Regions from separate parts of the Homo sapiens genome. Here regions 2, 3 and 4 are each linked to region 1. Evidence: fine-mapped expression QTL. A gene starts in region 1. Each other region holds a variant in brackets. All regions are shown on one strand. Distances are between the middles of the regions. Region 1 holds the start of C8orf58 (chromosome 8 open reading frame 58). Region 2 overlaps BIN3 (bridging integrator 3). Region 3 overlaps BIN3 (bridging integrator 3). Region 4 overlaps BIN3 (bridging integrator 3).

Region 1 (7,532 bases):
CCAGGGGTCCTGAGGGTTTCAGCACCAGGGTTCTCTGCAGCCACACAATCAGCCCGGCTCGGGAGCAAACTCCCCTGGAAGAACGGAGTTATGAGTTGGTCAGCAGAGGAGGCTGGGGACAGGCAGTTTTTGGTCTTTTACCTCTGATCTTGTCCCCAACCTAAGCCAGCTAGCTGCGTGCTCCCACTCCCTCTGCCGCACGCCGCCCGTCTATGTTCCCGGACTTTGTCCAGTGCAGTGCCCTCTTCCCTTCCTGCACTGAGGAGATTAACTGAAGTGACAGATTAGAGTTAGAAGTGGCCCAAAGGAGCATCTGGTACAACCCCCTTTGGTTAGAGAAGGGAAAGTGACTTTTCCAAAGCTGCACAGCTAGACAGTCATAATGGCTAAGCTCTGGGGGTGCTTTTGATGTGCTAGGGATACTTCCAATGCTTTAACTCACTTAATCCTCACAACCCGAGATAGGTACTGTTACCATCCTCTCTGCAGACGAGGAAACCGAGGACCAGGAGGTTCAGTAAATGGTCCAAGTACTCCTAGCTAGTAAGGAATGGATCTACAGCCTGCCTCCCAGGTTTCTGGCTTGTGGGGGGCAGAGTTTGTCCCTCTGTCATCAGAGGCAGCCTTCCAGGCACAGCTCTGGTCACCTCTGGTCACAACTGGAGGTCACCACAGCCCTCCCCAGCGCTCTGTAGGCTCTCAGCTTTGTGCTTCCTCCCACGGGTACTAGCTCCAGCTGAGCTTGCAGGAAACCCACTTCCTGAAGCCAGGACTTCCCCATGGGAAGTGCAGGGGCCACTGGGCAGCCTGAGGGCTGACCCTGCTCAGGACACTGTCTGTCTCAGGAACTCATGGCAGTGGTTTACCTTGTCAGGAGTGCATGGACGGGCTGCCCCTCCCATTCCTTCAAGCATCACTCAGAGAGCCCTGGCCTGGCTCTAGGCTTGGGACTGCGGCTGCCACAGGAAGGGGGCATCCCCCTACTTTGGGTGTTGGGTCAGATCCTGCCCCCGTGCCCGCCAGGGCTCAGGTTCCTCTGAGCTGGTCCTGGGCCAGGACGCATCTGCATGGCGGTGGTGGGGAGGAGGGGTGCGCCATGGCCTGGAGGGGAGTGTGTGTTGGGGTGTGTGTGTGGAGGTTCTTTTGAGTCACACACAAAGCATTGTGCTGAGACACTGCATTCCTGCTGGCTGGGCTTCCTGTTTCCAGATGCATTCCTGTCCCAGAGTCACCACAGAGACTGTTTGGAATCCCGCCCCACATTCTCCAAATTCAGGGCGCGATCTGGCAAAGGCTCCCTCCCCCACCCTCTTACTTTGGAGGGAGTCTGGGCTCCCTCCTACCCAGGGAGGGCTGGCAGGGCTCTGGCACGGCCGGGGTGTGATTCCACACATCTTCTTGGTCTTGCATAAGGCAGTTCCTGGAGACCCAGCACTCTGGTTCTCTCTCTGCCTGTGAGAAGCGGAATGGGTACTGTCTAGGAGGACTGGGCAGGGTGGGGGCAACCCAGAGGACCCATGGCTAGCAGGGAAGGGCCTGGGCTTGAATGTGACTCTGTTGAGACATGGCCAGCAATTCTGGCACTTGGCTGTCATTCGGCTGGCCTGCGCAGAGATTGGCTGTGGGCCTCAGTTTCCCCATTTTATAAAGTTTTAAAATCTGATAGTTTGTGGCTCTCTGATAAAGGCTCCTGCAGTGGGTGTTTGGGGACTGGTTCCAGAAAGGAGCAAAGGGAAGGGGATGCACAGACTGTCTTACCCCTCCCGGTAAACAGCCACTTCCTTCCAGTGGCTCTGGCTCCAGCCTCTCCCCTCCCCTAGAGGTCCAGGTGCTAGTCTGCACGTCCTCCAGCTCCCTTATCTGCCTCCGGGGGATTTGGGTCCTGCTGGGATTTTTCCAGCCCTGCCCCCTCCCTCTGGAGGAGGTGCCTTCTTTAGAGGACACCAGCCCCAGTCTGGTCACCAGGCTCTCTCTCATCTTCAGTAGCTTCTTGGGCTCCTTTTAGGTTGGGGACTGAGGGGTGGAATCCCACGGGCCAAAGGCAGGGTGAGGTGGGAACAGGGGGACATTTACACTTTGGCCCAGTCTCCAGGCGGCTCCCCGCTGGCTCGCATCTTTCCAGACCTTGAGACCTACCCAGTCCCCAGCTTTAGGGAGCCCGGGATGAGAAAGAGGCAGGGGACCGGGAGGGGGTTCAGATCTAGCTGAGGACACACGCGCGTTCTGCAGTTGTAAAAGATTTCCCGGTGGGCAGGATCGTTTCCCCTCCCATCGCCCAGGTTTCCGAGCGGCCAAGAGACTGGCCCCCAAGCCACACTGCTAGGGAGCGCCGGGTGCCCGCGTCCTGGTCAGCGCTCTTCCCACCGCCAGCACGTGGGGCTCCCATTTCCTTCCTGGCTCTTGTCCGGTCCTCCAGCCAGCCCCGGCTCTAAGTCCGCGGCAGGAAGACGGACGCTGCGTGTGAACCCGCGGGGCCGGGCGGACCGGCGCCCCGAGCCAGACGGCGTCCCCAGGCGGGGGCCGGGTCCTCGCAGAACAGCTGATCGGGACCCTTATTTTGGCCACAGCCACAGTTGGGGGCGCCACCCAGTCCGTGCCTTCGACCTCGTTCTTGGCGACCCGGCCACCTGCGCCCCCCACCTGGCACCCTTGCCTTCCCTCCTCTCGCCCCTCCCCTCCCTCCTCTCGCCCCTCCCCTCTCCTCTCCCCTCCCCTCCCTCTCCTCTCCCCTCCCCTCCCTCTCCTCTCCCCTTTCCCTCTCCCCTCTCCTCTCCTCCCCTCTCCCCTCTCCTTTCCTCCCCTCTCCCCTCTCCCCTCCCTCTCCTCTGCCCACCCTCTCCTCGCCCCTCCCCTCTCCCCTCCCTCTCCCCTCCCCACCCTCTCCTCTCCCCTCCCCTCGCCCTCCTCTTCCTCGCCCCTCCCCTCCCTCTCCTCGCCCCTCCCCTCCCTCTCCTTTCCCCTCCCTCGCCTCGTTCCTCTCATCCCTCGTCTTGCCCCGCCCCTTTCTCCTCGCCCCCTTCTCCTCGCCCCTCCCCCTTCCCCTCGCCCCTCCCCTCCTCTCGCCGCTCCCCTACCTTGCCTCGCCCCTCCCCTCCCTCGTCTCGCCCCTCCCCTCTCTCCTCGCCCCTCCCTTCCTCGTCTCGCTCTTCCTCTCTCCTCCCCCTAGGCCACGCCCCCCACCGCCCCGCCCCCCGCCCCCCCAGCCCCGCTCCCCGCCCCCCCAGCCCCGCTGGGAGTGTCTGGGGGCCGCGCCCAGCTGGGTCGGGACGCGCTCCCTGAGCTGCCCGAGCTCCGCGGGGACTCGGGCCGGGATCCTCGGGCGGCTGCATTGGCCGGGGCCGGGGCCGGGAGCGGGCCATGATGGGCCGGCGGCGCGCCTTCGCCGTGGACGGCCGGGGTGAGTCACCCACCCCCAGGCTGGCCGGGCTCCCCCCTGCCCCGGAGCCGCTTCCCGCCCCCAAGCCGGGCACCCTCTCTCAGTTTCTTGCCCAGCCCCGCGCACCCCGCGGGCGGAGCCCGCGCCGCTGCGCCTCCCTCGCCGCCTCCCTGGAGGGGCGGTCATCAGGGGACGCCATGCAGGCTGGAACCCCTTTGGGCCCAGGCGTTAAACCAGCCACCGCCTCCGCCCCACTTCCTCCGGCTCCGCTTCCCTCGCCTTCCCGCTCCTTCTGAGGATGTGGGAATCCGCCCGCGCCCCAGCCCCCTCCGTGGCTGCGGACCCCTCTCCCACCCAGTGACCTCCTGGCCCACTTCCTTGCCCAGAGGGGCCTGGGTTGGCATTCGGCTCCCGCGTGCCCCGCAGCTCGTCCCCGCCCCCCTAGCCTGTTTCCCGTACCGTTCATTCCGCCAGGACGCCCCGTCGCCAGAGGGCCTGGCGGAGGTGACAGTGAGGGGGTGCTAATGCTGCCCCTTCGTCCCTTTCTTTCACTTCAGTTCTTTCATTTTAAACTTTTCATAAAATCTTCACTATTGCTCACTTACAACAAAAGCCCAAATCGGTTATAGCGGTGATTTTTATCACTCTCCCGGTGAGCTGCAGGAGAGACTTCACCTGGCATCCTGATGCCGCAGGGGCCCCCAGAGAGCAGGTTGGATCCCAGGCTTTCCTCTCTGTACCCTCTCCCCTCTCCCTGAAGCTGGATACAGTCCTACTCCCGCTTGGGGAGCAGCGGAAGAGCCTGTGGCTCCCTACTTCTGACTCGGGAGATCGTGGGCTGATCCTAGGTGGGAAGCGCAGGCGCAGGCCGTCTAAGGGATTGATGGATGTGGCCTGCCAGGGCTTTGCCTACCACACAGCTCAGAGCACGGGTTCCCTGTCGCTAACAACCGTTGCGAAGGGAATCCCATCCACACATCTCCCAGACAGCTGGGGCCATATCCGGGCTGCCCGTGGCTGTCCAGTGACCGCCCTTCCTCACTGCTCCGGGACACTTCTCCCTGGGGCAGTGCTGCCAGCCTTCAGGAATGCTGGGGGTGTTGGGGGTGGCCTGCCCAGCCTGACGCTGACTCTCCATGCAGATGGGGCTGGCGAGGGCCTGGCACGGGGCTGCATAGTGCCTGGAGTCACCAGCACCTACAGACGGATCCCCGACGCTGCCCACGGGTGCTCATCCTGGGAGAGAGGTGACAAGTTCAGAGGTGTCGGCAGGGAGGCACTCTTTCTCAAACTGGCCTCCCGGGACTCAGGAGTGGAGATGGCAGTTGGGGACAGCCCCCTGGCCGCCTTACCGGGCCTTTCTCAGGACTCCCTGGACTTTGAATCCTCAGGGAGTTCTGAGCCCCCCGCCCAGGTAGGCCGACTCCTGGCCAGCCAGAAGCTGGGGGAGGTGTTGGAGCGGTCCCGCCGGCTCCCAACAGCTCCCACCAGCTTGTCAGGACAACACCGCTCCCTGCGGCTGGCAAGCAAGCCTGAGCGTGAAGTGCCCCTTGGAGCAGGGCAACAGGAGTCCATGGAGGCAGACACAGACCTAGAGGCAGGCCTGGAAGAAGAGGCGGTGAGTGCTCACTCTCAGGCTGGGTTTAAGAGTGGGATGGACAGCCTAGCTCCTCTGGTTCTCCCTGGAGCTCTCTCTGGGTGGGGCACTCCCTGCCCCTAATTGATGGGTTGTGTCATAGGTTCTTTCTGCACCCCAGTTCCATTTGTGCACGGCCACCTCTGCAGAGGAGGTGGGCAGCTACGGGGGCCCTTCCTGGCACTATGCCCCGCTGGGCAGTGGGGAAGCCGGCTGCGTGTGTTCCTCCTCGGGGCCCACTCTGCTCCCATCTGCTGGCTGAGCCCAGCCTGGCTGCTTAGGGTAGGGCAGGAGCCCTACTGGCTGAAATCTCCCCTATCTCACAATGTCCCACAGGTGGGGGGCCTGGGGCCTGGAGCCTGGGCCTGCCTCCCCGGGCAGGGTCTTCGCTATCTGGAACACCTGTGCCTGGTGCTGGAGCAGATGGCAAGGCTCCAGCAGCTCTACCTGCAGCTGCGGATCCAGAGGCCCCCAGGGGTGAGTGAGATTCGAGTGGGGGAGGGAGAGGACAGATGGGACCCTGGGAACCATGGCTGCCCTCAGAGCAGCTTCAGCCCTCTAGCCAGGCCCTGATCACCTGTCTCTCCTGTGCATAGGATCCCGGCGAGGAGGAGTCGACCCGAGCCCCTTTACCGTCCCCGTTACACACCCCAGGCAATCGGGGGCAGGGGCCATGGGAGCTGCTAAGCCAGACAGAGCACACAGGTGAGGGGCCATCGTGTCTCCCTTTGTCCTGCCTGCCTGGGGTCCCACCAGCAGGTCCTCTGAGCCGAAGCTTGATGGGGTGTCTTCTGGCCCTGGCCAACCTGACTGTCTTTCTGAAGGAGCAAAGGCTGCTTCACCCCCAAAGGTGGAGGTGCCCAGTGCCAACCCTCCCAGGCTGCCAGAAACCCCAGTGGAGCCAACGTACCACTTGCCATCCTCCCAGGGACACAAGGTAGGGGACAGGTATATGTGGGGCAGGTGGTGGGCTGGGGTGGGGGGAGGGGAGGTGGGGGATGCATGGGCACCCTGGGGGCCAGCAACTCTGGGGAAATGACAGGATTGATTCCTGTTTGGAGCAGGCGACTTGTCCTGGCTGTGGCGACAGCTGTCTCTGGGAGCTTGGTCGGGGGTCTGAGTGTGGGGAGGGCTCTGGGTGACCCCTCATCCTCTGCTCAGCGGGATATCTCCCACTGGGACAAGGTCAAGGTCCTGCTCAACCGGATCTGCCGGAGAAGCCACCACCACCCTGAGCCCCCTGCCCCTCCTGATGGCTCTGACCCCAGGTGAGCCCCGTGCCCAGCCCAGGTTAGGGCACGGAGAGGAGACTGATAAGCCAGGATGCTGAGATTGTCATGCCAGTTGTCATTATTGTCCCCGCAAAACTTGAGAGGCAGTCTGGGAGGGGCTGCTAGAAGAAACAGTAGTTAAAACACCCCATTTACAGATAAGGAGGCAGGGTTCTGGGTGGGGTTGGGGGTAGTTGCTTTTCCAAAGCCGCACGGTGAGTCAGTGACAGCTAGGACCAGAATGTGGGAAATCTGCCTACCCTAGCTCAGCAACCCCTCACCCTCAATGCTGACATTTAGGCCACCTTCCAGGTTCGTGGGGAGAGCAAGGTGGAGCACAAAGGATTTCACAGTGGGTGAAGGCCATCATGCTTCGGGGCTTGTATTGAATCGTTCTCCAGGAGGAAGAAATACCAAGTCATTTAACAGCCCCGGGCTGCGCCCACACCCAGCTACCCACCAGCAGATAAACCACGTTCTCTCAACTCTAGGGCCATTGTTAGTTTTATTTCCCCCTTCTAGCCTAATGTCTTCTTTTCATTCCACAGGATCGAGTCCAGGGACCTCCCTGAAAGGCCTCAGTGCCGCCCCCACCGGAAGACCTTTATGCCATCATTAGTGGTTAAGAAGCAACGAGCAAAAAACCTTTCTGTAGGCTGAGACCTCTCGGTGCACCTGGTGACCCTGGGTGGAGGGGACTTGCTGTGAAGTCTTCCTCGCCCTCTGCCCTCTTGCTGCTTCTCCACATTGCCAGGAAAAGCTGCTGACGCCTGCCCTCCTCTCTTGAGTCGAGGGCTGAATCTTTCTCCTCTAAGCAGTCTGGTCAGGAACCTTGGTTTCTTGAGAGGCCCCCAAGATGCCGCAGCTCCAGGGCTCTTCCTCCTCACCAGAAATCCCTGGGCTTCCACAATGTGAACTCACTCATTGTCAGGTGTCCGTGGAGTGTTTTTGGCATGGTGACCTGTCTGGGCCCAGCATGTTGCAGATGTGTATTTATGCGCAATGGTATGCATATCTCTGTGTGACTGTCAGTGTTGCAAGCTGGCTGGATCCAACCATCTCTTCTGAAATAATGCATCCAAAGGGTTGATATTCTGGGGGAGGTCACTGCAGAAGGATGGAACTGACCTTTATTCCCCAGTGGGCAGTTACTGAGCTTTCCTCCTCAGAGCCATGCTGGCAGCCCTGGGACAGAGAACGGTGTGGCTTTGGCTGCCTCTGCATGGAATCTTGCCCCGGACTCCTGAAG
Region 2 (7,532 bases), 63 kb after region 1:
CATCTTCTAGGGTCGCTATGAAGGTTAAACGAGTTTAATGCTTAAAACAGATCTTGACACACAGTAAGCAGTCTGTTTTTTTGCGAAGGTAGTAGTGGTATTTTGATGACGACGACCAACCAGGTCCAGAAGGGGTGACTTGTAAGAAGTTACAGAGATTAAGTATACTCACCCCCCAAGAATGGTTAGGAAACCTGAAATTATTTTTTTGTTTTGGGGGCAAACAGCTGTCCCATACCGTGATGCACCACCACCAGGCCCAAGTGATAAGTCTGCCTAAATTTGAGTGGCAACTTCCCCCCAAATAGTGAAAGGATTTTGACAAAAGTGTGGAGGCCGACAGAGCACCTAAGAGAGGAAGGCAGGCAACTCAAGGAGGCAAGTTTGGATTTTCTTTGCAGCCCCTTAAGAAGATCCTAATATCTGACAGACAAGTAATCACCGATTCTCATTCTAGTCTGTAAGGTAAGAAGGGGTAGAAAATGGGTTTGCATTTGGAGGTGAAAGGCTTGTCCTGCGGACTCCGCAAGGAGAGCACCTCTACTGGCCTCATCTCCATTCCGATGGGCTGACAGTGGCTTAGACTCTGAGAGCACCAGACCGGCTGTTTAGCTTCTGAGGTACCATCTTTAATCTCACCTTTGCTCCTGTCTCTTACCAATCAGCAATTATAAAGAGCTCTCACACTACCTTTTTCCTCTTCTCTGCTGAAAGTTTGGCCCCTAGAAAGCAAGAGGTAGAAGGAAGATGGCTGGATGGAAACTGACTTCTAGGCCCCCTCCCTACATCGTCCCCATCCCGTGGGGCAGGGGCGGGGGGCGCGGGCAAACGTTCTCTTGCTATGGAAAGTGAGGTCTGCCCCAGCAATGGTTTAAAAATTAAAAAAATATGAAATATTGTAAATACACAAAAAATACAGGGAATATATAATAAATACTCATGTATCCACCACTTGGCTTTGTCAAATTCTAACGAAGCCATGCTTGCTTTAGATATTATTATTTAAGCAACAAAACAGTACAGATGCTGTTCAGGCTCCCTGAGTATCGCACCCTGAGATTGTATTTCTTTCTTTTCTTTTTTAACTTAGTTTTTTTGAGACAGGGTTTCCCTCTGTATCCAGGCTGAGGTGCAGTGGTGTGATCATAGCTCGCCGCAACCTTGAATTCCTGGGCTCCAGCAGTCCACCTGCCTCAGCCTGCTGAGTGCTGGGACTACAGGCTTGCACCACTACCCCTGGCTAATTTTTAATTTTCTTTTTGTAGAGACAGTCTCACTACGCTCCCCAGGTTAGTCTCCATCTCCTGGACTCAAGCGATCCTCCCGCCTTGGCCTCCCAAAGTGCTGGGATTATAGGCATGAGCCACCTCGACTGGCCCCTGAGATTCCATTTCCTTCTCTCCTTGTTATCCTAGAGTAACCACTATTCTAAATTTAGTACTATTCCCATACTTTTACTGTATAAGTTTAAGTCCATATGCAAAATATAGTATTGCCTTATAGGTCTAATGTTTACATAAATAGTACAATGTTGAATGTATCATTCTTTTTTTTTTTTTTTTTTTTTTTGAGATGGAGTCTCGCTCTATCACCCAGGCTGGAATGCAGTGGCATGATCTTGGCTCACTGCAACCTCCGCCTCCTGGGCTGAAGTGATTCTCCTGCCTCAGCCTCCCTAGTAGCTTGGATTACAGGCGTGCACCACCACGCCTGGCTAATCTTTGTATTTTTAGTAGAGATGGGGTTTCACCATGTTGGCCAGGCTGGTCTTGAACTCCTGACCTCAAGTGATCTGCTTGCCTTGACCTCCCAGAGTGTTGGGATTACAGGTGTCAGCCACCGTGCCCAGCCTACAATGTTGAGTGTATCACTCTTATTTATTTGAATGTATCATTCTGAAGCTAGCTTTTTACATTCAGCATTACATTCTTGAGATTTGCCCACACTGGTACATACAGCTCTATTTTACCCATTTTAACTACTACATATATATACATTTTTTTTGAGACAGTCTCACTTTGTTGCCCAGGCTGGAGTGCAGTGGCATGATCTCAGCTCACTGCAATCTCCACCTCCCAGGTTCAAACGATTCTCCTGCCTCAGCCTCTTGAGTAGCGGGGATTACAGGTATGCACCACCACCATGCCCGGCTAATTTTTGTATTTTTTAGTAGAGACGGGGTTTCACCATGTTGGTGAGGCTGGTCTTGAACTCCTGACCTCAACTGATCTGCCCGCCTCTGCCTCCCAAAGCGCTGGGATTACAGGCGTGAGCCAACACGCCCGGCCCATAACATATCATCATGTAAAGACATCACAATTTATTTCCCCATTCTCCAGAGGCTGGGCATCTGCACATGACGATGCCCCTCACACTCCTGGCATGTGTCCCCTGCTGCATGGAGGTATGGGAGTTTCTCTAGGGTAGGGGACAGCCACTGTTCCAACTCCAAAATCTCCAATATACACCCCCTCCTGCAGTGTATGTGAATTCCTACTATTCCTCACCCTCAGATACTTGGCATTGTCAGGCTTTAAAATTTCTGCCAGTCTGATGGCTGTGAAACAGCATCTCATTGTTGGTTTAATCTGTTTTTCCTGATTACTAATAGGACCAAACATCTTTACATGAGCTTTTGTTCACTTGGGTTTTCTTTTCTGGAAAGCAATTGACAGTTTTCAAATCTATGGAATAAGTTCTTATAAAGAACTCAGCCAGTGTTCTTTACAGCTGCCCCTTCTGTTATTTTTTATTAACCCAGTGAAACAACCAAATACACAAGTAACCCTATCTTCAGTTGCTGGAGTCAAAGGTGTTAGCTTATCGTCTGAGTATTTGTAATGATACTCTTAGACAGATGGTTTTCAAACTTGAGGTCTTTGCAGAACATCTATCACTCAAAGGTCATTTAAACTGCTACACAGTCTTCCATTATATACATAGATCAAAATCAGTCATGAAATTAAAAAATCATATGCACTCACCTCAGGAAGAAAAAAAGAAAAAAAAAGTCAACTGAGGTGGGTCATTCTTTAAAAAAACAAACAAGGCTGGCCGCGGTGGCTCATGCTTGTAATCCCAGCACTTTGGGAGGCCAAGACGGGTGGATTACTTGAATCCAGAGGTTAGAAACCAGCCTGGCTAACATAGCGAAACTCAGTCTCTACTAAAAAATGGTGGTGCATGCCTGTAATCCCAGCTATCTGGGAGGCTGAGGCACGAGAATCGCTTCAACCCGGGAAGTAGAGGTTGCAGTGAGCTGAGATGGCACCACTGCACTCCAGCCTGGGCAACAGGGCAAGAGCCTGTCTCAAAAAACGAAAAACCATGAACAAGAACATAATAGAAAATATCAGAGTGCA[T/C]TGCACACATACTGTGTCAAACTTTTATTTCAAGTATAAGTGTGTGTGTGTGTGTGTGTGTGAGTTGTGATATCAAAGGTATTTCTAACTGTGAGTTGTGTTCAAAAAATTGTGGAAACTAGTCCAGGTGTGGTGGCTAACACTTATAGTCCCAGCCACTCAGGAGGCTAAGGCAGAAGGATTGCCTGGGCCCAGGAGTTTGAGACTGTGGTGAGCTGTAATTGCACTACTGCACTCCAGCCTGGGCAACAGTGAGACCCCCCGATTTGTTTAAAAAAAAAAAAAAAAAAAAAAGGAAACTATTGTCCAAGTTAGCATCCTTGGCTCCATTTTTTCTCTTCTGAGTTATCCTGCAGGCCACTGCCAAAATAATCTGACTAAATCATTGCTTTGGCCATGCCACTTCCCTGCTCAAAAGCCTTCAATTTCCAAAAGCCTAGGCTCAATTTCAAGTCCTCAGCATGGCACTGAAAGCACTATATAACGTGGCCCTGAGGTGGAGTGCCAATTCTCCCCAATGCAGCCTCTACCCAAACCACTACTTACCACCTCCAAGCTGGCCTCCTGACAGTCCGCACAAACACTCTTGACGCATTCTGACTCCACACACCTTTTTCATGCCATGCTTCTTACCTGGATCCTTCTCTCCCTCCCACTGAAACAGCACGTATTTGCTAAGTCAAGGTTCAGTTAAAATTACATCTGCTTCAAGTCTTTCTTGATGATGCCATACTGACATTTAGTGATCGGCTGTCCTTTTGAATCCCTAGCACTTTCCATACACCGGCTGAAGATAGAGATCGACTCATGCAAGTCTTTTAAATGTTCCTCAACATTTAGCACAGACTTTTGCACATTATAAATGTTGAACAAGCATTAAATCAACAAATATTTGTTGAGCACCATGTATGTGCATCACACTATACTGGGCCCTATTTGATGGATTAGCCACCAAAATCATGAGTTTGGGAAAACAATTCTAATAGGTTTAACAGCTGACTCTAAAGCTTACTCCGACAGATTTCCTTAAAGAGTATAATACATATAACACCTCTGACTAAGTAGCTGTGGGACTCAAGACACTTGACTCTTTCTGACTGCTCCAAGATCTGGAAGAAATCCTTCTCCTCTCATTAAACGCCTGAAATAAGAGCAAGCTCACATACAGAATCTCACAGACATTTTATAGGGCCCCTGTCTTCAAGGCATTACTATGCTCTCCACAGAGGAAGAAAAGCTTGGTGTGTCCAAAGTCACAGAGGACATGAGTGATGAGGCTGCCTTAGGCAGGGGCCCCATAGGTGGAAGAAGCTGAGCCAGTTACAGAACACCTAGAGGTCTGCAGGACACAAGGACTTCCTCTATCACTTATGTGTGAAGACTGTCAACTCCCTGTGATTCACTACCAACCTGCTAGTGTCAACACACCTTAGCAAAGTGAAACTCCGTGATCCAATCAGCTTGGGAATGGTCTGCTACTCTTCTAATATTCCTGATCATGGGGACAGAATACTCAGGAGACACATTTTAGTTCTAGTTCTTCCAGGTACTAGCTGAGTGAATTCTAGTAAGTTACCAAGGGGGATCATAAGACTGCACTGCTTGCGCAGACATAAGCATGAAGTCAGACAAAGGACGGGAAAGCCATCTGAAAAGTTAGAAGCACTCTACACATGTGAGACAGCAACGGTAATCATAGGGGAAAGGACTTCACTGAGAAAAAAACTGAATAATGGTTTTGTTTGACCCAGAAGTTTACCTTCTTTATATTCCATTCATTTAACAATTACCTGTTAGATACCCACTATGTGCATGATACCCACTATGCGTACAAAAAGATGAAGAAGCTCTATGTCGCTCCTGTTCTCATGGGGTTGGTGTGGAAGGGAGGTGTACGTCTGTGATACTCAGAAGGATGCAGAAGTGCTACAGGAGAAGCACTATGGAAGTACAGAAGAAACCCAGCAAAGCACTTTGGAGTGGAGGATCAGAAGGAGTGGGGAGGAGAAATCACAGGCAGCCTGACCTGGAAGCCACTTGTGTCGGTCAATTTAACAATAGTACTTTCAGAGGCTCTTCATTTTAGGAAGTGGTTTGTAGGTTCTGCAAGTTTTTATCTTAACATTTTTCCTGAGCTGAGGCAAGTCAGGAAAAGGGAAAAAAGGCCCCATTCATATATTTAATAAACACTTCCTGACTGCCAGGAACAGTGCTAGGGAATAGCAATGACCACAAGACAGTCCCCATACTCAAGAACTCACAGACAAGTAAACCAGCCAGCGGAGTACAGATGCTGATGAAGGTCAGAAGAGCGGCACCCAGTGCAGCATGGCAGGGTGTGAGGGGCCACTCAGGGAAGACCCTCAGAGAAGGTGAAGCGTGGCCTGACTCTTGAAGGATGAGTAGATGCTGGCCTAGTGGACAGGGTGTGAGTGAAGGGGAAACATTTCAGGCAGAAGGGACAGTTATCCAGAGGCACATGGGCACGAGAGAGCAGGAGAAGCTTGGAGGATGGAACACACGGAGTGAAGATGGACAGCCAGGCCCAGAGGGCCTCAGAAGCCCTGGCCCAGAGTTGGGCCTCTATCCTGAAGATGATGGCAAGGGACTACAGGGTGAAAACAGGAAAGAAACAAAAAGGATCAAACATGAGGAACACCAAAGTGTGAAGGGCAGACAGAGGTAGAAGACCCCGGAAGAGTCAGAAAAATATCACTCCACTCATTTCACAGCAGGCTCAGGTGGCAAATTGTCAGCAGGAATGGCCACTCCATGCTACAGATGGAGAAACTAAGACAGAGAACAGCTCAATGCTTGACCAGGCCGCACTGTGAGTGGCTGAGCCAGAACCTGAACGCAGCACTCTAACTCCTACTCACACTTACCTGCTCTGCCTCTAATTTCCTTCCTTTTTGTCAAACTACTGGACCCCTAGGTATAGGGAGATTTCTTCCAGTACTCCCTTTTCCTCCTCGTTTAAGCCTAAAATCATCAAGGTGTATGGTTCAACAGGAGGCTACAATTCCTGGAGCCAGCTTAGATTGAGGTCACTATTCTTAATTCTACTTAATCCTCTCTCCATACCATAATAAAGCCACCTGAGTATACACTGGAAGATGGGGAAGAGAGACAGGAAGGGGAAAAGGGAGACAAGAGGGAGACAGAAATAGGGAGGGAGGGGGTGAGTGGGGAGGAGAGGAGAGAAAGTTGGGAGGGGGGCAAATGGCGGGGGGAGGTGGGGTGGACAATGGGAGAGAAAAAGAGAGCGAGAGAGAGAGAAGCATTTGGCTTGAGGCCAAGAAGTGAATCTGTGATCTGAGATGTGAATATCAAATGCCTTCTTCCTAGTAGGACAGACCACCGGGTCACTTTTCTGAAAGGCAGATGGGTGTATGGGGAGTGGATGGGTAGATGGTGCAGGAAGGCAGCAGGTACCCACTAAACAAACAGGGGGTGGGCGGGTTGCCTGCACAGAGGAAGCAGAGAACAAAGGCCTCTCACTCTTCATGCAAAGTCCACAGTGTGCAAAGGGCATCAATATTGGACATTTCTCACTGTGACATTTTGAAAGCTCAGCCTAGCCCAGAACAATGGTTACCCTCTGGGGACCATGGGCCATGTGCCTTATTTAATGATGGCTTGGCACAGCCCATGTACTTGGTGAACTTGACCTTGGGCATCAGCCTCCCATGATGGCTCTACGTCACTCTGGTCTCTTCCCCTAATGAGAATTCCAGTCTCACATGAATGGATGGATTCATTCTGGGGGCAGGAAAACCACTCAGGGAGTGAATCAGAAGGACCCAGCCCCGGTCTCCTTGCCAGCCATTGAGCTAGGAACTGAGTGTGATTGTGTGCCCAGGCGCCGGTGCTGTTCCCGTCTTTGAGAGACAGGGTCAGGGTCCACGCAAGAGATGACGTAGAAGCCCTTTAAGGGGGAAGAGAAAGGAATCTCAGCTTTGAGGGACAAAGCCACCCTTCTGGCTGTGACTCTCAGTCCAAGGAGATACCAAGATGTGCATGTACTGGTAAATTAAAGCTACTAGATGAAAATCTCAGCTCTTGTTAGACAGTTGTCAATCTCAATTCTCTCCAACCTGACAGGATAACCTTTAAGGAATGGGCTACTATTTTTTCAGAAGGGAAACTTTCTGTGAGACAGGTGGAAAC
Region 3 (7,532 bases), 44 kb after region 1:
CTCACTGCAACCTCTGCCTCCCAGGCTCAAGCAATTCTCATGCCTCAGCCTCCCACGTACAGCTGGGACTACAGGAGTGAGCCACCACACCCGGCTAATTTTTGAATTTTTTTTTTTTTTTTGGTAGAGATGGGGTCACCATGTTGCCTGGGCTGGTCTTGAACTCCTGGCCTCAAGTGATCTGCCTGCCTTGGCCTCCCAAAGTGCTGGGATTACAGGCATGAGCCACCGCGCACGGCCCACATCTTTCCTCTAACCTTGCAGGATATGACAGCTGAGCAGCATCTTTACTTATTAAAAGTATTTATTTCCAGAAAGAGAAAATTAAAACTAAGCACTACTTGGCCCAAACCAAACCCCTCTAGAGATCCAGAACACACAGGGGGCGCTCTTTGGGAGGGGTGCTGAGTGTTAGCTGAACCCCGGGGCCCTAGCCTTTGGCTCCCTTCCTCCCTTTTGCAATCCCCCAAGTGTGCCGATGTGTGTGGGATGTCAGACAACACCTGGTCTCCCTGGCTGGGGACTGCTTGGACTTGTACCGGGAGGGACTTCAGGTTTTCAGCTAGGTTGATCATCCTGGAAGCTGAGGAACTTGAGGTCTCACAATGAAGCTGAGGAGAAGGTCAGGGGTGGGAGCGCGTTTTCTACTTGGTGCCGCTCAAGGCCATCTGACAGCCTGAGAGGAGTTTGGACACATTTCACCTCCCCTGCTTCCAGCGGCCGGGGTGGGTTGCTTCTCTAGCTCACTGGTCCGAGAGTTCTCTCCTCCACTGGGGAAAGATGCACGGGGACACTGCCAGAATTCTAGCCTCTCAGATAATGGCTAAGGGACTAAAGGGACACACTGGAGCCTCATTCCGAGGAAAAGAGCCAGACAGAAAAGATCTGAACATCTTTGAATGCTTGATGCCTTTGCCAAAAAGGCAATTGGACCCCAGTCAACAATGCAAGTATAAACACATGTGCACGGACCATCAGGGGATCAGGGCAAGCTGGGCCAGGCTGGCGAGGTTAGCTCAGGGAGAACCAAGCCCCAGACGACTACCCGTGGCCACCCCCTGCATTCATTCTCCAAGGCCCACGGTGGGAGGAAAGGGTTTTGCTGTTCCCTGCTCTTTTGGCAGTGCACAGGTCAGGCCCTGGCACAGAGTGGGAACTCAGTATGAAGTGAATGAACAGGCTGAGTTCCCACCCAAACTTATGCTCATGGTGAAGTGAAAAAGGAAACTGGCAGGCAGGGCTGGGGCACTGATCCCAGGGCTGAGGTGCATCTGATCGGAGTCTGAGAAGCCCAGAATCCTCAGCATTCTGGGAAGCCCCTCCTTCAAGGGATGCTCTGCGTGGAAAGTGGGCTCCCTGTAGGTATGTTCTAGCAGGATTAAGCAGGATTAACGAGGCTAAGGGCCCCGCCACCTGGCAGATGAAAATCCTTCTCCAGTGGAGAGGCTGCATGTGGCCAGACTCTCTTTGCCCTAACTTTGCAGAGCACCCACCTGGCTAGGAACCTTGGAGCGCATGTTCCTTGTGTGCAAGACTCACAGTAACCCTTGTTTCAGGGGGACACGAAGAGCAAAGCTTCGAAGAGCTCTTCCATCCTCCCAGGTTATGGAGGAAGGTGTGGCGGCTTCTTCCTACGCTACGATGCTCCCGCCACTTTATGGGACCTGGGGAGTGGGAGGGGACTGGGTGGAAGGTTAGGATCGGGATCGGGGGAGCTTTTGTTCCTCCATCTCAGTTCTAATGGTCAGCCCCAGCAGGAACAAGCCATTCTAGCCAAAGCCTTGACAATAATGGAATTTGTGTTAATAACCTGGGCACAGGAGAGCAGTGAGGGTAGGGACACAATGCTTTCTTTGTGCCTGACAGTTGGGTGCCTTGAGCCAAAAACCTCCTGAAACTCCCTGAAGATAACGTGAGCATTTCTTCCCATGACAGGGGCTCCATGACTTCCAATAACCCAGGCAGCCACAGCTGCTCCCCTCCCTGAAAGTGCCTGGGCAAGAACAACAGAGTGCGTCACTGCTGTTCAAGGGCAGCTGCCAGAGATGCTGAGACAACTGCACAGCCCAGGCCTGTTTTGGGGGCCGGGAGGGGGTGGTGGGTGGGGAATGAGACTGAAGAGGCAGGGTCTTACTACTTCTACTTCAGTGCCTCTGGGGAGTGGAGGGGTATAGGCCAGGGAAGCAAATAACTACTCCGAGCTGTAGCTCAGCTGTGATTCCTTGTGAGAGATCAAAGGCCCAGCCGACTTTTGTTGCGTTGGGAAATCTAGCTGCCTGGGACAGGCTGAGTCCCTGATGGTTCATAAAGAAGGTCAAATCAACCAGCTTCCTGTGATGTAGTTAACTGGGGACTTATTTTGTGCCAGACACTGTGTTAGGTGCCTTCAGTGTATTATCTTGTGTGAGCCTCAAAGTAACATCTGTGACACAGGTACTGTCATCATCCTGATTTTATAAACGAGAAAATGAAGGCTCCAGAGGTTAAGGAACTTGCCCAAGGTCAGAGACAGCATGTGGCAGGGCCAGGATGGGGACCCAGGCTGCCAGCCTCCCAAACCTAGTTTCTTAACCCCTACCTGACCCCCAGTCTATCAGAGAGCAGATGCCATAATCAGAGGACCACAATTCCATCTCCAGCGAGACAGATGCGAGGAAGGGAAGAGGGATGCCCTGTGTGCATCTGCCCGCACTGCGAGTCCTTGCCACTCCTTAGATCAACGGAGCCAGAGATCTTGCCACCAACACACTGGCAAAGCAGCTGGTTTGTCTACACTTTCTGTGGAGAACAAAGTTCATTTTGATAAAGGTTGGGGTGCTGGGAGGGTTTTTGTTTGTAGTGAGCATTCAGAATAAAAGAACCCTCTTGAAACCACTTCCCTTTCAGATCTGTCATGGATTAAACTCTGGAGACTCAAAGCCACACCTTCCCACTTCCTGCAGCCGGCTAGAGACCAACATATGCACACCCAGATTCTTTGGACTTCAGCTGAGAGCCTCCACAGATGGTCAGCCTCTGCATGAGAGGTCAGCGCTGAGTTGGTCAGCACCCTGCCTCTGCATGAAGCAGAGAGGCCCCACCCCCCAACTTTTTTTTTTAACAGACAGGGTCTCAGTCTATCACCTAGGGTGGAGTGCAGTGGTGCAATCAGAGCTCACTGTGGCCTCGAACTCGTGCGCTCAAGCAGTCCTCCTGCTTTAGCCTCCCAAGTAGCTGGGACTACAGGCGTGCATATTTTTTGGTAGAGTCGGGGTCTCTCTTTGTTGCCCAGGCTGGTCTCAAACTTCTTGCTTGAAATGATGCCCCCACGTTGGCCTTCCAAAGTGTTGGATTACAGGCGTAAGCCACTGGACCCTGTGAGGGTGCTTTTAACTTGGGCCTGTTTCCTCTCAAGTGACCTTACTCTGGATTTGCTAGAGATGGAGCCATTGGTCAGATGTGTGCCAAACTTCTCACCACACTGAAGCAATCTCTTTCCTGTACTTTTGAGAGCTCTGCCAAGGAGGGGAGAAGCTAGTAAGACAAGGAGAACCGTCAGGGGCTGGGATGACAGACGAGGGCCTCTGCCGCCAGCACAGCACCGGACTTCCTGTAGCTGTCACATCAGAGAGGCTCTACAGTTGTGGTCTCCCATGTTAAAACCAAGAGACCCACTCAGATTTGTGGGTCAGGAGGTTGAAAAGGCTATTTTGCACCGGGATTCCAAAACACTGGGAGGGCTTCACTGCCCAGGGAAGCATGAGGCAATGGAAAGAGTATCAGCCAGGGGCTCACGCCTGAGTTCTAACTCCAGCTTTGCCAGTGTGGGGTTTTTATAACTTGAGGAAGTCATTGCAACTTTCCACGGGCCTCATTTTCTTCATCAGGAAAAATCAGGAGGTTGGACTAGATGGTCTCTATGAGCTTCCAGCTCTAACTTCCTAAGAATCTATGATTCTCTTCCTTTCCCATTCTGGAGATAAAAACTTTCTAGGGATAAAAACTGTGGGCTTAAAGGGGGGTGGGATTCAATCTTCCTTTCCTGCTGAGTGACTCTGGGTCATGGCCAAGAATGCATTTGGAAGTTGACACAAACAGGCCGAGGCCACTGGGAAAAGCTTCCTGGAGTTTTCTGCAGCTGAGGTAACAGAAATAAATGCCTGGGCAGTGTCTTTGGTGGGGGCCACTCTTTCAGGAACACTCTTAGGAAAAGTATAGACCACAAGCCAGTCCCTAGAGGTGGACCGTTCTAAAGCAATATCTTCCTCTACATTTTTGTAATCCACCCATTCCCCCTGCCCAAGGATGATAAAGAGCCCAGGCTAACCTTTCCTAGGGGAAGTGTCCCAGGACAGGAGGCCCCTCTAAGCCTCAGTCTATGTGAGGTTCTAGATCCGCATAAGCAGGAAGAAGGCCCAGGTTGCTGTCTTCCCAGCCCCAAGATGTGTTGATTCAAAGCTTTGATTCTTATGCAAAGGCCATGTGATACAGAACTGAATCTCACAGCAAAACAATCGAGTTACTCACTGTTTTGGGCACAATCTGTTTCTTGGGCTGCCCAATCTTAAAAGGAATCCTATAAGAGAAAGAGACAAAGAGAGATATTGTGAGAAGTGGGGAAGGATGCAGCTCAAAGTATCAGTACAGTACAGGCCACTTTCCCCCAGGAGGGCGAGGAAGCGTGGCCATGGCTTGCTACTTGGACCATGTGCCCTGGTGGGCATACAACCATTGGCATCTGGGCTTGGTTCTAAGAGAGAGATAGGTCCTCCCACCTACAGTGTCAGATGCAGGTTGCTCTGCCCCAGAACATCTTTGCTACTGATAGTCTGTCATTTAAAGAAAATGAAAAGGTGAGGCCAAGGAGTTTGAGGCTGTAGTGACCTATAATTGCACCACTGTTCTCTAGCCTAAGCGACAGAGCAAGACCCTATCTCCAAAAAAAAAAAAAAAAATCCGCTGGGTATGGCAGCTCATACCTGCAATCCCAGCACTTTGGGAGGCCCAGGTGGAGGACTGCTTGAGCCAGGAGTTCAAGACTAGACTGGGCAATATAGCAAGATCCTATCTCAAAAAAAAAAACACAAAAAAACAACCACCAAAAATTAGCCGGGCGTGGTGGCACATGCCTGTAGTCCCAGTCACTTGAGAGGCTGAAGCAGGAGGATCACTTAAGCCCAGGAGTTTGAGGCTGCAGTGAATTATGATCATACCACTGCACCCTAGCCTGGGCAACAGAGGGAGACCCTGTCTTTTAAAGAGATAAAGGAAGGGAACAGAAGGGAAGAAAGGGGAAGGGGAGGGGGAGGAAAGGAAAGGAAAGGAAAGGAAAGGGGAAGAGAGGAAAGGCGAGGATGGCAGGAAAGGGAAGACACCCGCGAGGATGGCAGGAAAGGGAAGACACCCTGTGAATGACAATAAAACCTTGTGTCTTGAGGAGGTGCAAACTCAGAAATTACAGACTCACTGTAATAGCTATCATCCTTGAAATCACGAATCATTATGGTCTATATTAGGTGCTTTGCTACTTCTCTATAGAGGGGCAAACTTTGGATCTGCAAATCTTCTTTGGAGGCTGGGGAGAGTTAATAAATAACAGAGGCATTAGTGATTGGCCGGGCTGGATTATTTCCCTGGGAAAACTCACAAAATCAAAAAGCTGCTAACTTGGAAAATAATCTGAAATCCAGCCCAAGTCTGCCTTGGACTTGCTATGAAGAGCTGCACCTCAGATTCCCTACTTTACAGCATGGCACAGCGGAA[G/T]GAGGATCATGGGTCTAGGAGTCTCAACCTGAGCATTAGCCTGGCCTCCGCTTCCACTGAGCAGGCTGCCCTTCGGCAGGTGACGGCTGCACTGGGACTCCATTTCCTGCTGCATAAAACGAGTAGATTAAACTAGGTAATTTAGGAGCTTCCTTGAGGCACTGAGCATTCTATGATTCTCCAACTCCAGGAAGAAAAGAGGCCAGGCTAGAAAGTGCATCCCAATGGCTATGGAAAGGGTAGACTCCCGATCCCAGGTAGGAAGTGAGTCAAGAATCCCTGCGATCAGCTCCGGCAGAGGGCTCTCAGCCAGCCATGCTCATCCCTCTCCTTTTGGCTCTTCCATTCAAACCTCCCGTTTCCACAATGCACCAGACCCGCTCCACCAGGCCCACATCCCACCCTTCCCTCCACACCCCCTTCTCCCTGAGCCTGCTTTCCTTTGGCCCAAACTGACCAACACACTGTTGCTAAACCCAAGGGTGTAATTAACCACCGATAATGACCCCAAACAGTGATCCAGTGGAGGGGATGGGCCAGCCTGAGTCACAGTGGTTTAAATTTAATTTCTGGAGGACATCCTGTTTATTGTTAACCCAGCCCCATAATTTGGGAGTGTTAACCCTTTGGGGGCTGGCTGATTCGCATCTTCTGTAAACAAATAAATTCTGACTACATAATAACCAGGGAGGAAAGGTAAGGTCTGGAAATGAAAAGGAAAGAAAAAATGAAATTGTTGCTTCCTTTCTCAGACCTAAACAGAAAAGGTTCACGGGGAGATGGGTTCCTTCCCCACACCCTGGTTACTTTTCCCATTCTCAGGGATTACAGCTGACAGACAGGATGGTTTTTGGACAGTGAGCAATTGCCCTCAAGGACCATTCTGGAGACAGTGCAAATGAGGTCCTGGTGGCAAGGACCACTCTGGAGACATTGCAAATGAGGTCCCAGTGGCATTGCAGACAGACAGCCTGTATTCTGTGGGAAGCATGCTGCAGCTGAAAGCGCTCTCGACCCGGTATCAGAAAACGTGGCCTCTGCCTCCGACTCATTTTGTGATTTGAACAAATCTCAATCTCTCTGGAGCCCAGTTTCTTAAACTATAAAACAAAGGAGTTGGAATCCCTTCAGCTTATCTAAAACTGGAATTCTAAACTGAATCTCCACTCCAAGAATATGGGGAGTAGGATGAGAATTCTAAAGAAGTCTCAGAGTGGTCTTCAAAACGATTCTTGGAGTTTAGTACTGTAGACAAGGGACCAAGAATCAGAAACGTAGATTCCATTATTTGTGGTGTGACAGCCTCCCTCTAAACCTTAATTTAGTATCACGGTATTTTTAGAACTGTAAGTTACCATAGAAATTTTTTCCCCAGTTCAACCCTCTCCTTTTGTAGATGAGGAAGCAGATCCAGAAAGGTTCAGTGACAAGCCCAGGGTCACTCTGCTGGCTCACAAGAGAACAAGGAAGAAGCAACCAGCACCCCTGGTGTCCAGCCCAGTTTTCTCTCTGCTACCCACAGTTCAATACTCTTTTCACATGAATTTGTTATAAGTATGTGATGAAAACACCTAGTCTCAAAGTCCTACAGAATTCCAAGGGGCTCATTGTTCTTAAGGGTCTGGAAGTGAATGGGAGGACGTTCGTGCTGAACTGGGTGCTCTGGCACAATAAGAGGTTATGTACACCACGCAGACGGAACAGCTCTTTCCTTGTATTTTCACCACAGTTACTGATGATCACAGAGACCTATCATACTGTTCTGATTATTTTTCAACTCACCTGCTCAA
Region 4 (7,532 bases), 52 kb after region 1:
CTTGTCTGATGCTTTTCTCCTGACTAGACTGGAGTTATGGCTTTTGGGGTAGAAGATCACAGAGCAGAAGAGCCATCCTCACCACATCATACCCAGGGTCCACGATGTCAACATGCCTTACCCTGCTGATGTGAACCTTGATCACCAGGCTGAGGTCATCTTTCTCAGCTTCCTACTGTGAAGTTACTCTCCCTTCTCCCTTTCCCTACTGCACTCCTTGGGAGGAAGCCATCATGCAGAATCCTATTTCTTATTTATTCAACCATTCAATATCAGTATGGACTCACAGATATTTATCTTATATTTTGGGTTATAATCTAATACATTATTTTGATGCTCAAACTGTTCCAGCTTTCACCACTGGCAGCTCTTTCAGTTGGCTTCTGTGTCCCTTTGACATATCCACATCAACGTATGTATGTATGTATGTATGTATGTATGTATGTATGTATGTATGTAAGTGTGTGTGTGTATTTCCTTACTTTCCAGCTCTACGACATGTACCAAGTGCATCTTGTACATTTCCTGCCTCAGCCCTAGAATCAGTGGAGGAACTTACATTAGTATTCAATGTGCTTCTGTAATATGTTCTCAACCTTACTTTTCCTATTCACTCAGTACAACTGCCATGATTCAGCCAAGTGGCTGTTCATTAATCCCCCAAATCTAGACTCCTTATAATTTCCTGTCCCAAACTGGGACATTTTGGAGTACACGTCATCAGGACAACTTGGACTGCCCAGGGCAACCAGGACAAATGGCTACCCCACCTATATGGAATGCTTTCTCTGCTCCCAGGAAAACTTCTCACCTTCTTCTAAACGTCAAAGACTTATTTGGCATTTAAAAAATTCTACCCTTTACAGTTAATTACAGTTTATCTCCTTAAAAAGTAAAGTATTCACACGAGAAACAGTAACTTTAAAACAACTATTACAGAAAAACGTGCTCATTGCAGAACACTTGAGAAATAAAAGGGGATGGGGTGGGTGGGGGTATAAGGGAGGAAAAGGAGAGGGAAAAACCCAGCCACGATTCCGCATCTAAAAGATGGCCAAGGTTAATGTTTCAGTGTTGCTATTTATATTTTTTAAATTTACAGTAAGAAAAACTGAAGCAAATATGCCAAATGTTGGTAGTGGCTAATTCTGGGTGGTGAGAATATGATTACTGTTTTCTTCTTTGCACTTTCCACATTTTTCTTTCAAATAAACCAAAAACAAAAACAAAAACAAACAAACAAAAAAACACCCTTGTTTTTTTCTTGACTACAAAAATAGCACCTGATCAGTGTTAAAAACCTGGAAGAGATAGAAAAACGCAAAGGACAACACACACACACACACACACACACACACACACACACACACACACACCCCCAAAGGAAAAAATTAACAGTAATATCCTGAATCACAGTGTGTACATGTGTGTGTGCATGTGCATATGTAAATTTTATATAATTTTTAAATTAATAAGTAAAAGAAATATCATGAATGGTTTTATATGAGAATATATCATTTTCACTCTCCTGATTTTTAAGAGCTACGGAAGTAAAATGAGTGGTTCAGGTATATAATGGAAATGTACCACTCGTTTTATTTCTGTAACCTCATCACTTACTGCTGGTCATTGCAACCGTTTCAAATTTTTCTTCTATTATGAACAAAAACTCCAATAGGTAAATCTTGGTGTGCACTAAGAGTCATACAGGATCAATTCTGTATACTGTGTTCAAGGCTTTGACACATTTTGACAAACTGCCCTAGAGACAGATTGAAACATTTAACATTTTTGAAAAGATTGAAACAGTTTACATTTTACTAACCACACTTTGGTTTGTATATCAGGATTTTTTTCTTGGATTAGTGTTTGCCTTTCACTTTTGTACATGCTTGTGTTTAATGTACAGAAGCTTTTGATTAGTGTGAAATCAAATCTACTAAATCCGCCTTTTGTGAGTTCTTCTTTTGGTATCAAACTGAGGATGACCTGCTTCCTCCACTCCATCAACTTGCAACTATTTACCTATATTTACTTTATTACTTTTATGGCTTCCTTTTGTTAATCTAAATTCTATCATTAGTATCAAAGTTATAGTGTGCACAGTCTAATAAGGCAACAAGATTTCTTAAGTAAAACGTTAGTTCCCAGGACTCCCTAATCTCATTTGCCAGAAACAACCACTTTCAACTCAACTGAGTTTCTAGTATTTACCTTTGCACATCTAAAGATAAATGCTTATACTGCTACCTCTAGATCGTTAGGTTTTTAGGCACTAAAAATCTACTTTAGCTATTGACTTTTTACTTCGGAAGATGAAGATTTAAAATTAAACAAACAAAATATTTTTGGGTACCCATCGCTATTTCATGAAGCCACACTTGCAGCTCTTCTTCTCAATATAGTTACAGTATAATAACTTGGTTAGCTCAATATTAAGTAAACTATTAGGAGGATATTGTGAGTTTTCTTCCATCCTGCCCTTGGGAGCCAGCAGATTGTTCAGCCTCAGTCAAAGCTTTAGGGCATAGCAGTTGTAGCCGATGTACTGAGTCACAAACTCGTAAGAGTTTCCAAGTCAAAGCTCCAGCTATGCCACTCCCAAAT[T/G]CCTGACCAACAGAAACTATTTGTTTCCAGCCACTAAGTTGTGGGATAATGTGTCACGCAGCAGTAATACATAAATAACATGCATACTTTTTTTTTAACTTTCCCTAAAATTGGTAATTGTCACTTTTCTTTCATTTGCTTGTCTACGTACTTATCCCCAATTCAATCTGTGGTCTAACTCTGGTTTCAACACATTCATCGTTATCAGGTGTTCTCTCCTTTGCATCTTCCGGACAGTCTGCCCTGCAACTGCTGCCTCGCTCCAACCTGGACTGGCTGCCTGCTCCCCAGCCGTGAGGCTCTCAGCACCAGCTGTCCCTTCACCAATCTTTCTGGGATTCCTTTGACTTCTCTTTCATGATTTTTCCCTGATCCTCCTCTTTCTTCATTTACCCCTTATTTTGGTGGGAACAAAGTATGTGGGAGGTCACTTTTGAGACTGCACATCCTAAAACCTTGTTCTTCTACCTGCAGGCTAATTTGGGCATAGAATTAAAGGCTGGACATAATTTCTGCCAGAATTTCAAAGGCATTGCTCCCCTGTCTTCTAACTTCCCAGTACTGCTGCTGTGGGAAAGTCTGAAGCCACTCTGATTCCCATCCTTTGTATATAACCTGTTTTTTATTTTCTTACACAATCTTATAGGAATATATGTTTGTCACGGTGTTGTATAATTTTACAACAATGTGGGTCTATTTTCATCCACTGTGGTGGGTACTCACAGGACTGTTTCAATTTGGCAATTTATAATCTTCGGTTCTGAGATTTTAAAAATTTTGTTGTTGATTTCTTGTTTTCTGTTTCTTACTTCTGAAACTTACAATTTCGATGCTGACCCTCCTTGGCTGGTCCTCTAATTTCTGTTTCTCAATTTCATCTTCTAACGCTTCTACCAAGTTTTTTTTTTTTTTCATTTCTGCTATCAGATTTTTAATTTCTAAGAGCTCTTTTAAATTTTCAGGATGTCCTTTTAAAATGGTATCTTATTTTTATTTCATGGATGCCTTATCTCTCTGAGGATCTTAACAACAGCTTTAATTAAAAAGTTTCTTCTTCCCTTTATAGTTTCAGTTTTCCTCCAAGTTGCTTTTTTTCTTTTTGTTTAGTCTTTATTTTCCATACTAAGTGCTTTCCTTGGATGTGTGGTAATTCTTGGTTGCCTACTCTCATCTATGACTGGGAGACAAAAAGAGCTGACAAGAAGCTCTGAGCACACGAACCATGTTTATCTACTGGGTAGGACAATCTGCAAACTGGCTGAACAGTTTTGTGGGGAACTCCCTGATGTCACTATCTTTCTACTCTTTTCTCTTGGGCAGGTAAAATTCCTTAGAGAAGATTCTTCCAACCTTCTGCCATTCTGGGAACTCGGCAATGGAAGAGCCTGCGTGTGCATGTATGTGTACACATGTGTGCATGTGCGCATGTGTGGTGGGGAGGGGAAGGGGTGTGCCTTGGCACTCTGAGGGTGTGCGTTCACTTCATCCTCCCGACTTCACTAGGGCAGTCCCACCCTCAGCTGTGCTGGCTGCCCTCTCAGAGGCGGGTTTGAAGTTTATACAATTTTGTATGCCCCATTTCAAGAAAATTACAAATATACAAATAGGCATGAAAGTGAATATTTAGGCAGAGAAAAGAGCAAAACAAATGCGAAGTTTTAAAAGCTAATAAATGACACAAACATCAGGAAATAATCTAGTATTTTTATGAATCATCTGCCTAACACACCTCTATCTTTGTCTCCCTACATTTTTGGGCTGCTTAGTGTTTGGTTGCCTCTTCATGTGATGCAGAGTTGGTAGCATCATTTTCTTAGAGTAAAAAAGGTAATTCCCTCTTTCCTCTGGTATGGTTGTTCGAAATTTTTCTACTACTGATGGTTTAGAAGAGCCTTTTTCAGCTTACTGGTAATATCCAAATTTTAGGATTGTTGTAAAATTTAGAAAAATCTCATGTTTCCTCTGCAAATAAACTAAGATGTCAGGGCACATTTCAAGGTTTCTTGTACAGTGACTAATCTTAAGTGTTCTTTGAATTAATGACAGTGACCAGTTTGTCATTAATGTCTGTCTTTGAAGGAGGGCGTATTTTGAATTTTGTTATCTTTGTTATGTTTTTCATGTTAAATCCGCCAGAAATTTAAATGTTTTATCAGTGTGTTCCGCTGATTTGCTCCTCTTCTTCATTAACTGAGTTTTCTAACAATCATCACTCCTATTTAAAATGGATCTCGTTCTCTTAATGGATTACTCACTTTTGGTACAATTGGAAAATGTTTTGTTATGCTTTGCTATATTTCAGAATGATTTCTACATATTTAAGCACTCACCTTATCATTTTTGTGTTCCATTATTTTTAAATCCAATTTTCTCTCTAGTTTTTAAGTAAATTTAAAATTGACCACAAAAGGTAACCGTTACACATTTCCAACTCAGGAGCCTGTGATTTCTTGTTTTACTAACATTTTCCAAAGATGTCTTTACAACGTACAGTTAAAACAGTATACTCCCAATTCACCCTTCCTTAGTTCCATCCCCCAAAAAAGCCTGGGCTACCCCAGGATTGCCTGACATGAGGGATAGTATGAAGAAGTAAAAGCAGGAATGAAGACAGAGGTTTTCCTAACTCGCTGCAATGTAAACACTTTATGTTTCAGTTTACCACAACATAGGCATGCCTAGGGTTCCTTCCAGGGTCTTGGGAAAGGTCCATTTAAGTTGGGACCCTGAGGCTGAAGCTTTGTAAGTTTCACACCTTAAATCCACCTTTGTGTCCCCTGGTACAGAATTCTTTGGAGGTGGGGGTTGGGGTGTAGGACTCTTCATTCTTCTGCTAGGGTGGGGTGGGGTGGGGACAGTCTCCCAGTGATAAGCAGTTAGGGAGATGTTAGGGCTCTAAACTATTCATAGTTTTCAACCAATCACCCTGATCTCAGCCCTTGGCTTCACCTAACTTCTAGAGGTACTTAGTACCAACTCCCAAACCTTTGAGAATTCTGGGATGTAAGGTGGGATGGCTCTTGGTTTTCTCAAACGCCAGTTTGGGACTTGACTTTCTTGGAACTAAGTCAGTTACCTCATGTAACTGCACCCTAATTCCCAAATTTTGTTGTTGATGTCTCTTCTATTCTCCCTGAACTATGGATTTATGCCTTAAAAAACTGCTTTACTGTGCTTTTTGTAGGATTTGTGAGGGAGATAAATTAGATGTATGTATTCAATCTGTCATCTTTACTCAGAATCTGGTTTATTTTTAAATAACATACCATAACATTCACCCTTTTAAAGTGTACAATTTGGGGTTTTTAGTATATTCCCAGAATTGTGCAAAAATCACTGCTATCTAATTTCAGAACATTTTCATCACACCAAAAAGAAACCCCACACCTATTAGCAAACAACTCCCCTCCTCCAGCCCTGGCAACCATTACTTTGCCTTCTTTATGGATTTGCCTTTTCTGGACATTGCACAGAAGTAGAATTATATTTGTATGTGGCCTTTTGTGTCAGCCTCCTTCACTTAGCAAAATGTTTTTGAAGGTCATCCATGTCATAGCATATATCAGTACTTCATCCTTTTATTTTTTTAATCACTGAATACTAGTTCAGTGTATGGATTTATATTTTGTTTATCCACTTATCATTTGATGGACAATTGGGTTGTTTTCCCTTTTTGGGTATTAATGAATGCTGTGACAAACATTTATGTTCAAGATTTTGTGTGGATATGTTACTTCTCTTGGGCATATATCTAGGAGCAAAACTGCTGGGTCATATGGTCACTCTATGTTTAACCTTTTGAGGATGTGCCAGACTGTTTTCCAAAGTAATTGTATCATTTTACATTCCCACCAGTGGTATATAAGGGTTCCAATTTCTCCACATCCTTGCCAACACTGTCTTTTTCATTTTAGCCATCCTAGTGGGTATGAGGTAGTATTTCTGATGTGCATTTCTCTAATGACTAATGACGTTAAGCGTCTTTTCATGTGTTCATTTGTATATCTTTGGAGAAACATCTATTCAAATCCTTTGCTCATTCTAAAACTTTTATTATTATTGTTGTTGAGTTGTAAGAGTTCTTTATATATTCTGGGTATTAGCCCATAATCAGAAATATTTTCTCTCATCCATGGGCTGGGTTTCCACTTTCTTAATGGTGTCCTTTGAAGCAGAAAGTTTTAAATTTTGATGAAGTCCAATTTATCTGTTTTTTCTTTTGTTGTTCATGCTTTTGGTGTCATATGTAAGAATCCTTTGACAAATCCAAGGTCATGAAGATTTACTCTTGTCTTTTCTTCTAAGAGTTTTATAGTTTAGCTCTTACATTTAGGTCATTGATCCATTTTGAGTTAATTTTTAAATATGGTGTGAGGTAGGGGTCCAACTTCATTCCTTGGCAAGTGGCTATCCATTTGTCCCAGCACTGTTTGTTGAAGATTATTCTTTTTCCGCTGAACTGTTCTGGCATCTTTGTTACAAATCAATTGTCCATATATGTAAGGGTTTATTTCAATTCTATTCCATTCATCTACATGTCCATCTTGATAACAGCACCACACAACCTTCATTACTGTAGCTTTGTAGTATTAAGACTGGGGAGTGTGAGTTCTCCAGCTTTGTTCTTTGTCAAGATCATTTTGACTATTGTGTGTCCCTTGCATTTCCACGTGAATTTTAGTGGTTTATTTTTTATATTTAAATCTTTGCTGCATTTAGAGTTTGAGTGTATGACTAGTCCATTGTTTTAACATAGTTTTTAAAAATTCCACCTTTGAAAAGTTATTTTATCAGCATTAAATGCATCTACTATTCCATACCACAGAGTAATCTACCCTTTTGCCAATAACACAGATTTATTTAGATGTATAAAAGTTCCTGATACTTAGCAAAGCAAATCCCTTCTCATTAAAAATTTTTTTCCA

Evidence for each region. PIP is the estimated chance that this variant, and not a neighbour inherited with it, causes the effect.
Region 2: its variant is the best candidate, but not a certain one, in a credible set for the expression of C8orf58 in blood mononuclear cells (TOPMed, PIP 0.81).
Region 3: its variant is the best candidate, but not a certain one, in a credible set for the expression of C8orf58 in whole blood (TOPMed, PIP 0.53).
Region 4: its variant is the best candidate, but not a certain one, in a credible set for the expression of C8orf58 in whole blood (INTERVAL, PIP 0.56).

The regions. Positions count from the first base shown.
Region 1 is chr8:22,596,364-22,603,895 of GRCh38, forward strand. It overlaps C8orf58 (chromosome 8 open reading frame 58), which reads left to right and starts at 3,236. Exons shown (of 7, transcript NM_001013842.3): 1 at 3,236-3,397; 2 at 4,519-4,994; 3 at 5,349-5,489; 4 at 5,609-5,717; 5 at 5,837-5,949; 6 at 6,174-6,280; 7 at 6,832-7,532. The coding sequence starts at 3,358. The coding sequence ends at 6,943. LOC107986876 (a long non-coding RNA gene) reads right to left here. Exons shown (of 1, transcript NR_160769.1): 1 at 6,770-7,532. It also overlaps a transcript of PDLIM2 not described here. RefSeq lists enhancers at 739-1,486, 1,487-2,234, 4,923-5,800 and silencers at 2,621-2,680, 3,046-3,145, 3,176-3,635.
Region 2 is chr8:22,659,807-22,667,338 of GRCh38, forward strand. The region is part of intron 1 of BIN3 (bridging integrator 3); the gene reads right to left. Among named protein-coding and RNA genes, the nearest start is that of BIN3, 5.5 kb to the right of the region's middle. The variant T/C (reference allele first, on the strand shown) is at 3,363.
Region 3 is chr8:22,640,249-22,647,780 of GRCh38, forward strand. It overlaps BIN3 (bridging integrator 3), which reads right to left. Exons shown (of 9, transcript NM_018688.6): 2 at 4,507-4,555. It overlaps BIN3-IT1 (BIN3 intronic transcript 1), which reads right to left and starts at 1,961. Exons shown (of 1, transcript NR_027715.1): 1 at 123-1,961. The variant G/T (reference allele first, on the strand shown) is at 5,743.
Region 4 is chr8:22,648,483-22,656,014 of GRCh38, forward strand. All of the region lies in intron 1 of BIN3 (bridging integrator 3), which reads right to left. Among named protein-coding and RNA genes, the nearest start is that of BIN3-IT1, 10 kb to the left of the region's middle. The variant T/G (reference allele first, on the strand shown) is at 2,608.